3 linked regions of the Homo sapiens genome follow. The main gene of each other region encodes a partner of the protein of the gene in region 3 in a complex. Each region holds a gene or a part of one and is shown on either strand. Other genes may lie near its edges. The genes, in order: TAF4, TAF12 and TAF13.

The links.
Region 1: TAF13 (region 3) and TAF4 share a complex: the UniProt entries of both Homo sapiens proteins name them as parts of the TFIID basal transcription factor complex.
Region 2: TAF13 (region 3) and TAF12 share a complex: the UniProt entries of both Homo sapiens proteins name them as parts of the TFIID basal transcription factor complex.

What each region holds. Positions count from the first base shown.
Region 1 is NC_000020.11:62,010,260-62,013,910, forward strand, and holds part of TAF4 (transcription initiation factor TFIID subunit 4), read right to left. Parts: intron 2,676-3,651; coding exon 2,556-2,675; intron 1-2,555. UniProt on the Homo sapiens protein: The TFIID basal transcription factor complex plays a major role in the initiation of RNA polymerase II (Pol II)-dependent transcription.
Region 2 is NC_000001.11:28,633,023-28,636,673, forward strand, and holds part of TAF12 (transcription initiation factor TFIID subunit 12), read right to left. Parts: intron 1-3,651. UniProt on the Homo sapiens protein: The TFIID basal transcription factor complex plays a major role in the initiation of RNA polymerase II (Pol II)-dependent transcription.
Region 3 is NC_000001.11:109,065,853-109,069,503, forward strand, and holds part of TAF13 (transcription initiation factor TFIID subunit 13), read right to left. Parts: intron 381-3,651; coding exon 283-380; intron 1-282. UniProt on the Homo sapiens protein: The TFIID basal transcription factor complex plays a major role in the initiation of RNA polymerase II (Pol II)-dependent transcription.

The sequences.
Region 1 (3,651 bases), on a different chromosome or scaffold from region 3:
CCCTGCGGTGGCCAGGACGCCCAGGAAGCCAAGGACCCCGGCCACCTGCCAGCCCGCTGGACACGGGAGTGCTGCTGGGAGGCCTGCCCTGTGCCCTGACGATCGCAGTCCTGAGCGGGTGAGGAAGGCATGATTTGCACCTGCATCAAAAACGGACGTTCACAAAGCCAGGCACTGCAGAGACCCCAGTCCTCAGAAGTCCATGGAAAAAGTCACATAGAGACCAGAGTAAATAATCCTAACAGGCAACCCAGATCCCCATCTCTCAGAAATCAAAACAACAAACAGAAGAACGGCTCCTGAAAGCTCCATCCTCCCAGGTGCAGAGGCTGGCTACAGGGCGGTCAGGGCTCCACAGCCGCAGCCTCCCATAGGGGAGGGTCCCCAGCTCCCTGCAATCACCCAAACCCACCTTTCTTTACTCCCCAAAAGTGAGTGTCAACAAGAAGCCTCCCACAGAGGGGAGTTTTCAGAGCAGATTCGAGCAATGGAGGATGGGTCATCAGTGTCAAACTGTCAGAAAGGAGGGGCTGCTTTGCTAAGCAAATGAACAGCCAGACGCCAAAAGGTAGCTCAGACAACTCAGTGGCCTGTACTCGATTCCTAACATTTCCATTCTACATGAATAATCAGAATGCAAATGTTTACTGATATTTTAAACTAGTACTTTTCCAATGTATAAATCTAGCAGTCAACATTTTCTGTCTCCAATTTTTTAAACACTCCTTTGCAACTTCTGAAAGCAGGGGGCAGTGTAAGCCTGAGAATGGCTCCGGAGCAGCGAGCTCTCTCCCGGTGGGTGCAGCCCCGCCAGCACGTGGGAAGCAACTCTGAACCAGCCCCGCTTCCAGAGGGGTGCGGATGGGCTGTGAGGAGGCAGCAGGGTGGAGGGACTGTTTCTAAGTCTGTGTATCTTTTCACTTGTAACAATAAGCATGGATTTTTTTTTTAACTGAAAAACATCAAATAAAAACCTCCAGTGAAGAAAACATAAAAGGACACACCAAGCTGCTGCTTCTGGACCCTGGGAGTACCCAGGACCCACCTCATCTTTTGGGAGTCTTCTTTCCCATCAAAACTGACTCCTCACACTTACTTCCACTCCTAAGAACACATATTTCACTCAGATGATATCCAGATTGTGTCTGCCACTAAGTATAATGCAAAAACTTAACCATAAGCTCCAACTACCTTCTCAAAAAAGTCACTGTAACCAAAAATCCAGACGCACCAATCAGAGCACAGGACTGAGCAAGCTCCTTCAGGGAAAACACCAAGGGCGGGGCCTGCACCAAAGGCCAGCACACATCTCCCTGGTACTGAACCGCCCTTCCACCCACTTTCACCCACTGCAGCTGCAGCCAGCCAGGACATGACCCAGTGAGGGTAGAAGAGCCGGGGTTGCGGGGGGAGCTGCCCCTGGAGTCCACACCCCCTGGGGCTCAGCCTCCATTTCACCACTGAGCAATGGGAAAAGGGCCTGTGGCACTGAGGCAAGGACTCTGGATCTCTCTGCAGAGCGTCCAGGCCCACTGCCTGGCTCATGGCAGGTGCTTCACCAGCAGCGACCAACACCATAGAGACCTACGCATCCACGGATGCTCACAGACACCAGGTGACCAAGAAAAACCCCTGAACCATTTTTCTCCCAGCTGCTTCCTGCTGACTGCCCAGAGAAAGCTGCTTCCCTCACCAGGTGCGTCTGACCGGCCAGCCCCTTCCCCTCCACACACCTCCGCCACCCCTTCCAGAACAGCCTGGCCTGCACACAAACCCTTCTGGGATCTGCAGGCCAAAGGCTGAGCTGTCAGGAGCATCAGCACCACTAGGAGAGGGGCCAGCACCTGCTCTGGGACACGCTCCTCTCTGCAGATGAAAACGCTGTTCTAGAAACCAGCGGCCACCAGGGTGGATACAGAACCCTTCTAGAACGATGCTCTCACTACAGACGAGGGATGTGAGCGGCAGGTGGCAGCGTGGCGTGGCAGGCACCGTGCAGGTGGCATGGCCGGGAGTGAGTCCCAGAGCCTCCCTTGCCTCAGTGTAAGCGCCGCACCACGAGATGAAGGGAGCGATGTCATCTGCTTCCCAGGGTGCGGTGAAAGTTACGGTCCATGTGCCTGCAACAGTGAGAGCGACGCCTCGGCCACGTTCACCTTAGCGACAGCCGCCGTCCTCAAGTTACACACAAGGCCACATGTGCACACACACACTGTCCTCACCGCAGGCTGCTTCTGCTTCAGACATGCCTTATGATCAAGTACTAGTAAGGACATAGTTTTAATGCTTCCAACATGGTGGAAAGCTTGAACAGTGCTGCTGGTGTTAAATTCTGTGTGACTAAAAAAAAGAAAAAAGAAAAAAAGAAATCCTGACTTATCCCATGTTGGTGGTCAAAGAAAAAGCACTTTCTTCACAGAGAACCTTCCTCCCCAGATTTGACGTAGTATCCAGTTTAAAAAAAAAAAAAAACTCCTAAGGCCTGATCTCTGCATCAAAGAAATCACACTTCGTGGCCCCTGCAGCCTCAAGAGATCCGCCGCCTGCCCTCTCACCTGGACGCCGGGCGAGCGCTGCAGGGTTGCACTGGGCTGCACCGTTGTCTGGGCCTGAGACACTTGCTTAATTATGGTAGTTGGGGTCACCTGCCGTGCAATGATAGGTGTTCCAGGTGCCTGAAAAATAAGCAGAGTCACCTAAAACGAGCGCAAGTAAAAGGAATTCCCACCCCCAGGTACACAGAAATTATTCCTTCCATATGTAACTAGTATATCCAAGTGGGTCCCAGGCTTATCCGTGATCTGCAATGAAGCCACTGTAATTCTAAAGTTTTCTTACCAAAGAACAAGTGTATGACAAACATTTTCCTATACTACAATAAACATATCATTAGGCTTCTTAACAGAGTCTACAAAAGGTCATCTCTGAAGAACGCAGGTATCTAGAAATCAATCCTCGTGCTGCTGGCTTGTGACCTCGTTAACAATCACTAAAAAGGATGCAAAGGCAGACGGCCAGTCAGTGTCGCAAAGGGGTAGGGAGGTGGCCGCCCCTAGGCTAGATGGCCAGTCAGTGCCAGAGAGGGGAAGGAAGGTGGCTGCCCAGGACAGAGGGACGCCACAAGTCCTGAGCCCATGAAGTTTGTCGGAGAGAGACTGACATGGAAAGAGCAGATGGCAGACTGCAATGGGATGCCCACAGTGCAAGTGAAGCCACGAGTGTCTTCCACAGTGTCCCACTCAGCAGACAGATGCTGCAGACTTGAGGACACCGTTCTGTGCTACTTCAGATCTGGGTGGTCTCTGGCAGCCTCCGGCACGTCCGTCCACGTCCCTGTCTATGGGACAGAGGCACAACTCCAGAGGGTACGCAGCTCACGTAGCAGGAGAAGGATGCTGATCAAGTCATTCCAGTCTTCACAAACCTGCCAGGTCATTCAGAGCAGCAGCATCACAGTGCCAGGGAAACACGGCAGGAGACGGGGCAGGAACACGCAGCGTGCGGGCACGTGCAGGTGACAGTCATGGGGCCAGACACAGACACACGCCGGGAGAGGCAAGTCCTGGGCACTCTGCCCTCCAAGTCAGAATCCGTGCTCCCTACCACAGCTCAGGGGTCGGGAGCTTCGGCCCTGAAGGCTGACGCGGGTGT
Region 2 (3,651 bases), about 80 Mb from region 3:
CCAGCTATTTTTTTTTTTATTTAGTACAGACGGGGTTTCACCATGTTAGACTGGTCGCGAACTCCTGACCTCAGGTGATCCACCTGCCTCGGCCTCCCAAAGTGCTGGGATTACAGGGCATGCACCTCCAAGCCCGGCCTACTTTTTTTTTTTTTTTTTTTTGAGACAGAATCTCACTCTGTTGCCCAGGCCAGAGTACAGGAGCCCAATCTTGGCTCACTGTAACCTCTGCCTCCCGGGTTCAAGCGATTCTACTGCCTCAGCCTCCAGAGTAGCTGGGATTACAGGCACGTGCCACCATGCTGGGCTAATTTTTGCATTTTTTAGTAGAGATGGCATTTCGTCATGTTGGCCAGGCTGGTCTTGAATTCCCGACCTCAGGTGATCCACCCGCCTCAGCCTCCCAAAGTGCTGGGATTACAGGCATGAGACACTGTATCCAACCGAAAATAAATTTTAAAAAGTAAAACAGGGCCAGGTGCAGTGGCTCATGCCTGTAATCCCAGCACTTTGGGAGGCTGAGGCGGGCAGATCACTTGAGGTCAGGAGTTCAAGACCAGTTTGGCTAACACGGTGAAACCCCGTCTCTACTAAAAATACAAAAATTAGCCGGGTATGTTGGCTCACACCTGTAATCCCAGCACTTTGGGAGGCCGAGGTGGGCAGATCATCTAAGGCTGGGAGTTCTAAACCAGCCTGACCAACATGGTGAAACCCCGTCTCTACTAAAAATACAAAAATTAGCTGGGCATGGTGGTGCATGCCTGTAATCCCAGCTATTCGGGAGGCTGAGGCAGGAGAATCGCTAGAATCCGGGAGGCGGAGGTTCCGGTGAGCCGAGATTGTGCCATCGCACTCCAGCCTGGGCAATGAAAGCGAAACTCCATCTCAAAAAAAAAAAAAAAAAAAAATTAGCCAGGTGTGGTGGCGCGTGCCTGTAATCCCAGCTATTCGGGAGGCTGAGGCAGGAGAATCACTTGAACCCAGGAGGTGGAGGTTGCAGTTAGCCGAGATTGCGCCACTGCAACCCAGCCTGGATGACAGAGTGAGACTGTCTCAAACAAATAAATAAAAAATAAATAAAAATCAAAAACAAAAACAGGCATTAACTGGCCGGGCACAGTGGCTCACGCCTGTAATCTCCACACTTTGGGAGGCTGAAGCAGGTGGATCACAAGGTCAGGAGTTCGAGACCATCCTGACCAACATGGTGAAACTCCGTCTCTACTAAAAATACAAAAAAATTAGCCAGGCGTGGTGGCGCTTGCCTGTAATCTCAGCTATTTAGGAGGCTGAGGCAGGACAATAGCTTGAACTCGGGAGGCAGGGGTTGCAGTAGGCCGAGATCACACCACTGCACTCCAGCTTGGGCGACAGAGCGAGACTCCATCTCAAAAAAAAAAAAAAAAAAAAACCCCACAAAAAACAGGCATTAACTGTGGGACAGTTTGAGAGAACAATAATAATTAACCCTTACTATTACCTACTATGTAGAAATTGTGTGCTATGAGTCACAAAGTAAATATGGAAAGTCCACCCCCCAGTGATTGGTTGTTGAAAATATTTAGTAATTCTATCAAAACACGATTGTATGGGTTAGAGTTCAATTTAAATAAACCCATCTAGGCAAGGTGCAGTGGCTCACGCCTGTAATCCCAACACTTTGGGAGGCCGAGGTGGGCAGATCACCTGAGGTCGGAAGTTTGAGACCAGCCCGACCAACATGCAGAAAACCCATTTCTACTAAAAATACAAAATTAGCCGGGCATGGTGGGGTATTCCTGTAATCCCAGCTACTCGGGAAGCTGAGGCAGGAGAATTGTTTGAACCCGGGAGGTGGAGGTTGCAGTGAGCCGAGATCACGCCATTGCACTCCAGCCTGGGCAACAAGAGCAAAACTCCATCTAAAAAATAAATAAGTAGGCCAGGCATGGTGGCTCATGCCTGTAATCCCAGCACTTTGGGAGGCCGAGGCAGGCGGATCACGAGGTCAGGATCGAGACCATCCTGGCTAACAGGGTGAAACCTCACCTCTACTAAAAAAAAAAATACAAAAAATTAGACAGGCATGGTGGCGGGTGCCTGTAGTCCCAGCTACTCCGGAGGCTGAAGCAGGAGAATAGCGCGAACCCGGGAGGTGGAGCTTGCAGTGAGCCGAGATCGCGCCACTGCACTCCAGCCTGGGCGACAGAGCAAGACTCCGTCTCAAATAAATAAATAAATAAATAAAAAAAACCACATCTATCCTCCCTCCTTTTTTTTTTTTTTTTTTTTTTTTTGAGATGGAGTCTCACTGTGTCGCCCAGGCTACAGTGCAGTGTCGCCCAGGCTACAGTGCAGTGGCGCAATCTTGGCTCACTGCCAGCTCCACCTCCTGGGCTCACACCATTCTCCTGTCTCAGCCTCCTGAGTAGCTGGGTCTACAGGCGCCTGCCACCACACCCGGCTAATTTTTTGTATTTTTAGTAGACATGGGGTTTCACCGTGTTAGCCAGGATGGTCTCAATCTCCTGAACTCATGATCTGCCCACCTCGGCCTCCCAAAGTGCTGGGATTACAGGCATGAGCCACTGCACCCGGCCTATCCTCCCTCCTTTTAAACTGTGGTTGACTGGCTGAGGATGACAAGCCCTAATTGCTTCCCTTTAACAACCTTGTACTTCAAACAGAAGTCTAGCTGCAACCCTATTATTGTATTGAGAGGGTCTAATTTTTCATAGGGTAGGAATTAAGGAGACCTTGGCAATAGTTGTAAGACCCTGGTATTCTCTGTGCATCTATTCCATTAACTGTTTTTTTTTTTTTAAAAAAACAAAACAAAGGTGAAGAGAAAGGGGAACAGAAGAAAAGGTAGCCTTCAAAACCTTTTTTTACCTCTGAAATGTTTAGTAATTTATTATTTAAGCAAAATACTGGAATCAAGAGGACTGGCCTGATGGCATAAAAGCCCTATACTGTGGTGCATGACTTCACTTAATGACTGGTTTTTCTACCTGGCTGTTTCTTTCCTCTCTGGCTTCTAAATGTATCTAAATGAGCTCATATTTCCCAGCCTAAATAAGCTAAAAAGGATCAATTATTTGCAGTCTGTGAGACTCGAGAGCAATAGAAATGCAAGATTTTTTTCCAGTGTGCAATTAGGATTGGTTAGTTGAGGCTCCAGCTGCTTTTGACTTATCAAAAAGGCAGTATAGGCCACATGTGGGACCCCACGTCTGTAATCCCAGAACTTTGGGAGGACAACATGGGAGGACTGTTTGAGGTTAGGAGTTGGAGACCAGCCTGGGCAACACAAAAAGATCCTGTCTCTAACAACAACAAAAGGTAGTATAGTGTATAGTACAGTGGTCAAGGATATGAACCATGGTAGCAGTATCTGGGTTTAAGTACCAACTGTGCCACTTTTCAGCTGTATTGAGCAAGCTACATAATCTCTTTATGCCTCAATTTTCTCATCTGAAAAAATTAAGTTAATAATGAAGTACAGGGTGGGCTTGGTGGCTCACACCTATAATTCTAGCAGTTTGGCAGGCTGAGCGGGAGGATCACTTGAACCTAGGAGTTTGAGACCAGCCTGGGCAACATAGTGAGATCTGGTCACTACAAATAAAAAAAAAAAAATCAAAAAATTTGCCAGGCGTGGTGGCATGC
Region 3 (3,651 bases):
GGAGGTTGCAGTGAGCCAAGATCGTGCCATTGCACTCCAGTCTGGGCAACAAGAACGAAACTCCATCTCAAAAAAAAAAAAAAACAAAAGGAAGAAGGGGGGATAGAATATACATGTATAACCTCCATCCTCAATGATAAATAGTAACCAATAACTTCTGCAAACAAGCACTCAAATGGATAGCTTATTTCAAAGGGATGCCATAAGTTCTAGTCTTACCTAAAGTTTAATATTTCAAATCTATTCTTCAATTAACTAAGACCAGTTAGGAAAGAATCTTACCATTTCAGTGATAAACTCTATGACAAGATCTTCAAGAATATCCACTGACTCAGTATAAGGATTCTGGTCATCCCCAAAGCCATACATCATACATCGCACTGTAAAAGAACAATCACTTACTTTTGTTTACTTTTACAGATTTAACAATTTGATACTTTAAAAAAATAAAGTAGAAATGAACCAAGTTATAGATAATATTGGTATGAAAACATATTTACATCGTATTTGTTATCTCCAAGTATGGATTCTTGTGTAAAAGGTTTAAGAACAGTCTGATGACCAACTGTTCCCACGTAGCCTCCAGCAAAACTCTTCCTTCCTCCCACCTACTGAACCCTAAGGTAAACAGTCTTTTCCTAATCTCTAGCATCTACTTACCAGTCCCTGCCCCCAGCAGAACACCTTTAAGTAGGAAACTCTGGCAAAGGACAGGACAGACAGCAACAGCTTAGCCTTTTTTGGAGGTGGTTTTTGTGTGTGGGCATGGCAGTGGGGCGTTGGAAAAACGGCAGACTCTTTACTGATATTACCATAGGGGAAAAGACATGAGAGACAGTTCTCCAAATACTTTTTTTGTTTGTTTGTTTGTTTGTTTTTCTTGAGACAGAGTCTCGCTCTGTCGCCCAAGCTGGAGTGCAGTGGCACCATCTTGGCTCACTGCAAGCTCCATCGCCTCCTGGGTTCACACCATTCTCCTGCCTCAGCCTCCCGAGTAGCTGGGACTACAGGCACCCACCACCACGCCCGGCTAATTTTTTGTATTTTTAGTAGAGAAGGGGTTTCACTGTGTTAGCCAGGATGGTCTCGATGATCTGACCTGGTGATCTGCGTGCCTCAGCCTCCCAAAGTGCTGGGATTACAGGCGTGAGCCACCGCGCCCAGCCCCAAATCTGTTCTTATAGGAAGAAACAGGGTACTCAAAATGAGAAAGCAGAGGGCTTACTACAAGGAATTTTGACATTTCCTAGATCAATACAACTGCAGCAAAGCCCTTTCAGGCTTCATCTGAAGAAACCATAGGAAATGCAAAGGATAAGTCTAGGTCGGGTGCAGTGGCCCACGCCTGTAAACCCAGCACTTTGGGAGGCCCAGGCAAGTAGACTGCTTGAGCTCAGGAGTTTGAGACAAGCCTGGGCAACATGGCGAAACCCTGTCTCTACATAAAAAACAAAAATTAGCTGGGCGTAGGCCTGGATGGTGGCTCACGCCTGTAATCCCAGCACTTCAGGAGGCTGAGGCAGATCACTTGAGGCCAGAAGTTTGAGATCAGCCTGGCCAACAAGGTGAAAACCTGTTTCTACTAAAAAAAAAAAAAAAACACAAAAGTCAGCTGGGGGTGTTGGCACATGCCTATAATCCCAGCTACTCGGGAGGCTGAGGCATGAGAATCGCTTGAATCCAGGAGGCAGAGGTTGCAGTGAGCTGAGAATGCGCCACTGCACTCCAGCCTGGGTGACAGAGGGAGGCTGTGTCTCAAAAATAATAATAATAATAAGAGAGACTGTGTCTCAAAAATAATAAGAGAGAAGTCTAATACAGACAAATAAAAATAACTGCCAAAAGATAAAACATATATAGCCCTTATTATATGCCAGGTACTGTCTTAAGTCCTTTACATATATAACTCATTTAATCCTCACAATGATCCTTTAAGGTAGAAACTATTGATTATCCCCATTCTATAGATGAGAAAATTAAAGCACTGCAGTAACTGATTTACCCAAGGTCACAAAGCTAGTAAGAGATGGAACCTGAGTTTGAACCCAGCTGATCTGGTTCGCGTCTTTACTCATACCCACAACAGCATCGCACTTGTTGGTAGTTGTAGTTTAGGGCAGACAGGATCCGTGTGAATTCTTTTTTTTGCTCTCCTTTTTTGAGACAGTCTTGGCTCTGTCGCCCAGGCTGGAGTGGTGTTGCAGTACAGCTTGCTGCAGCCTCAACCTCCCTGGCTCACGTGAGCAGCTGAGACTACAGACACATGCCACTATGCCTGGCTAATATGTGGGGTTTTTTTTGAAACAGAAGTGTCACTGTGTCACCCAGGGTGGAGTGCAATGGCACGATCTCAACTCACTGCAACCTCCACCTCCCGGATTCAAGAGATTCTCAAACTTTAGCCTCCAAGTAGCTGGGATTACAGCCATGCGCTACCACACCCAGCTAATTTTTTTGTATTTTTTAGTAGAGTCAGGGTTTTGCCACGTTGCCCAGATAGTCTTGAATTCCTGGCCTCAAGTGATCTGCCTGCCTTGGCCTCCCAAATTATTGGGATTACAGGCCTAAGCTACCACACCCAGCCATTTAAAATTTTTTCTAGAGACAGGGGTCTTGCTATGTTGCCTAGGCAGTTTTTGAACTGGTTTCTAACTATTTATTTATTTTTATTTTTTCGTAGAGACAGGGTCCCACCTTGTTGCCCAGGCTGGTCTTGAACTCCTGGACTCAAGTAATCCTCCTGCCTTGGCCTCCCAAAGTGCTAGGATTACAGGTGTGAGCCACCACACCCAGCTGAGATCCACAGAGGTTCTTATCCTATCGCCTATAAACTCCCAGTCCAGAGACAAGCTTTAAGAAGTCCTTGAAGGCCAGCGCGGTGGTTCACGCCTATAATTCCAGCACTTTGGGAGGCCAAGGTGGGCGGATCACCTGAGGTCGGGAGTTTGAGACCAGCCTGACCAACATGGTGAAACCCCGTCTCTACTAAAAATACAAAAATTAGGGGGGCGTGGTGGCACGCACCTGTAATCCCAGCTATTTGGGAGGCTGAGGCAGGAGAATAGCTTGAACCCAGGAGGCAGAGGTTGCGGAGAGCTGAGATCATGCCAATGCATTCCAACCTGGGCGAAAGAGGGAGACTCTGCCTCAAAAAATAAAAAAAGAAGTCCTTGAGACTACCCTGAAATCATACGGAAAAATTTTATACATTATCTGTACATGGGCATTTTTCTGGGAATAATTATAACTTTTATCAGATTATCAAAGGGGTATATGTAAATGGTAAGAAATGCTGTCAAATGCTGGAAGTGTTCTGTATCTTGATCTTAGTAGTGATTACAAGTGTGTGAGTGTGTGTGTGTGTGTGTGCGCACATGTATACAGTTGTCCCTTAGTATCCTTGGGAGCTTGGTTCCAGGACCTCCCGTGGATACCAAAATCTGCAGATGCTCAAATCCCAGATATAAAATGGCATAGTATTTGCATATAAGCTAAATACATCCTATGTATATTTTAAATCATCTCTAGGTTACTTACAATACCTAATACAATGTAAATGCTATGTAAATAGTTGTTATACTATACTGTTTAGGGAATAGTGACAAGGAAAAAAGTCTATACATATTCAATAGAGGCACAGTTTTTTTTTCT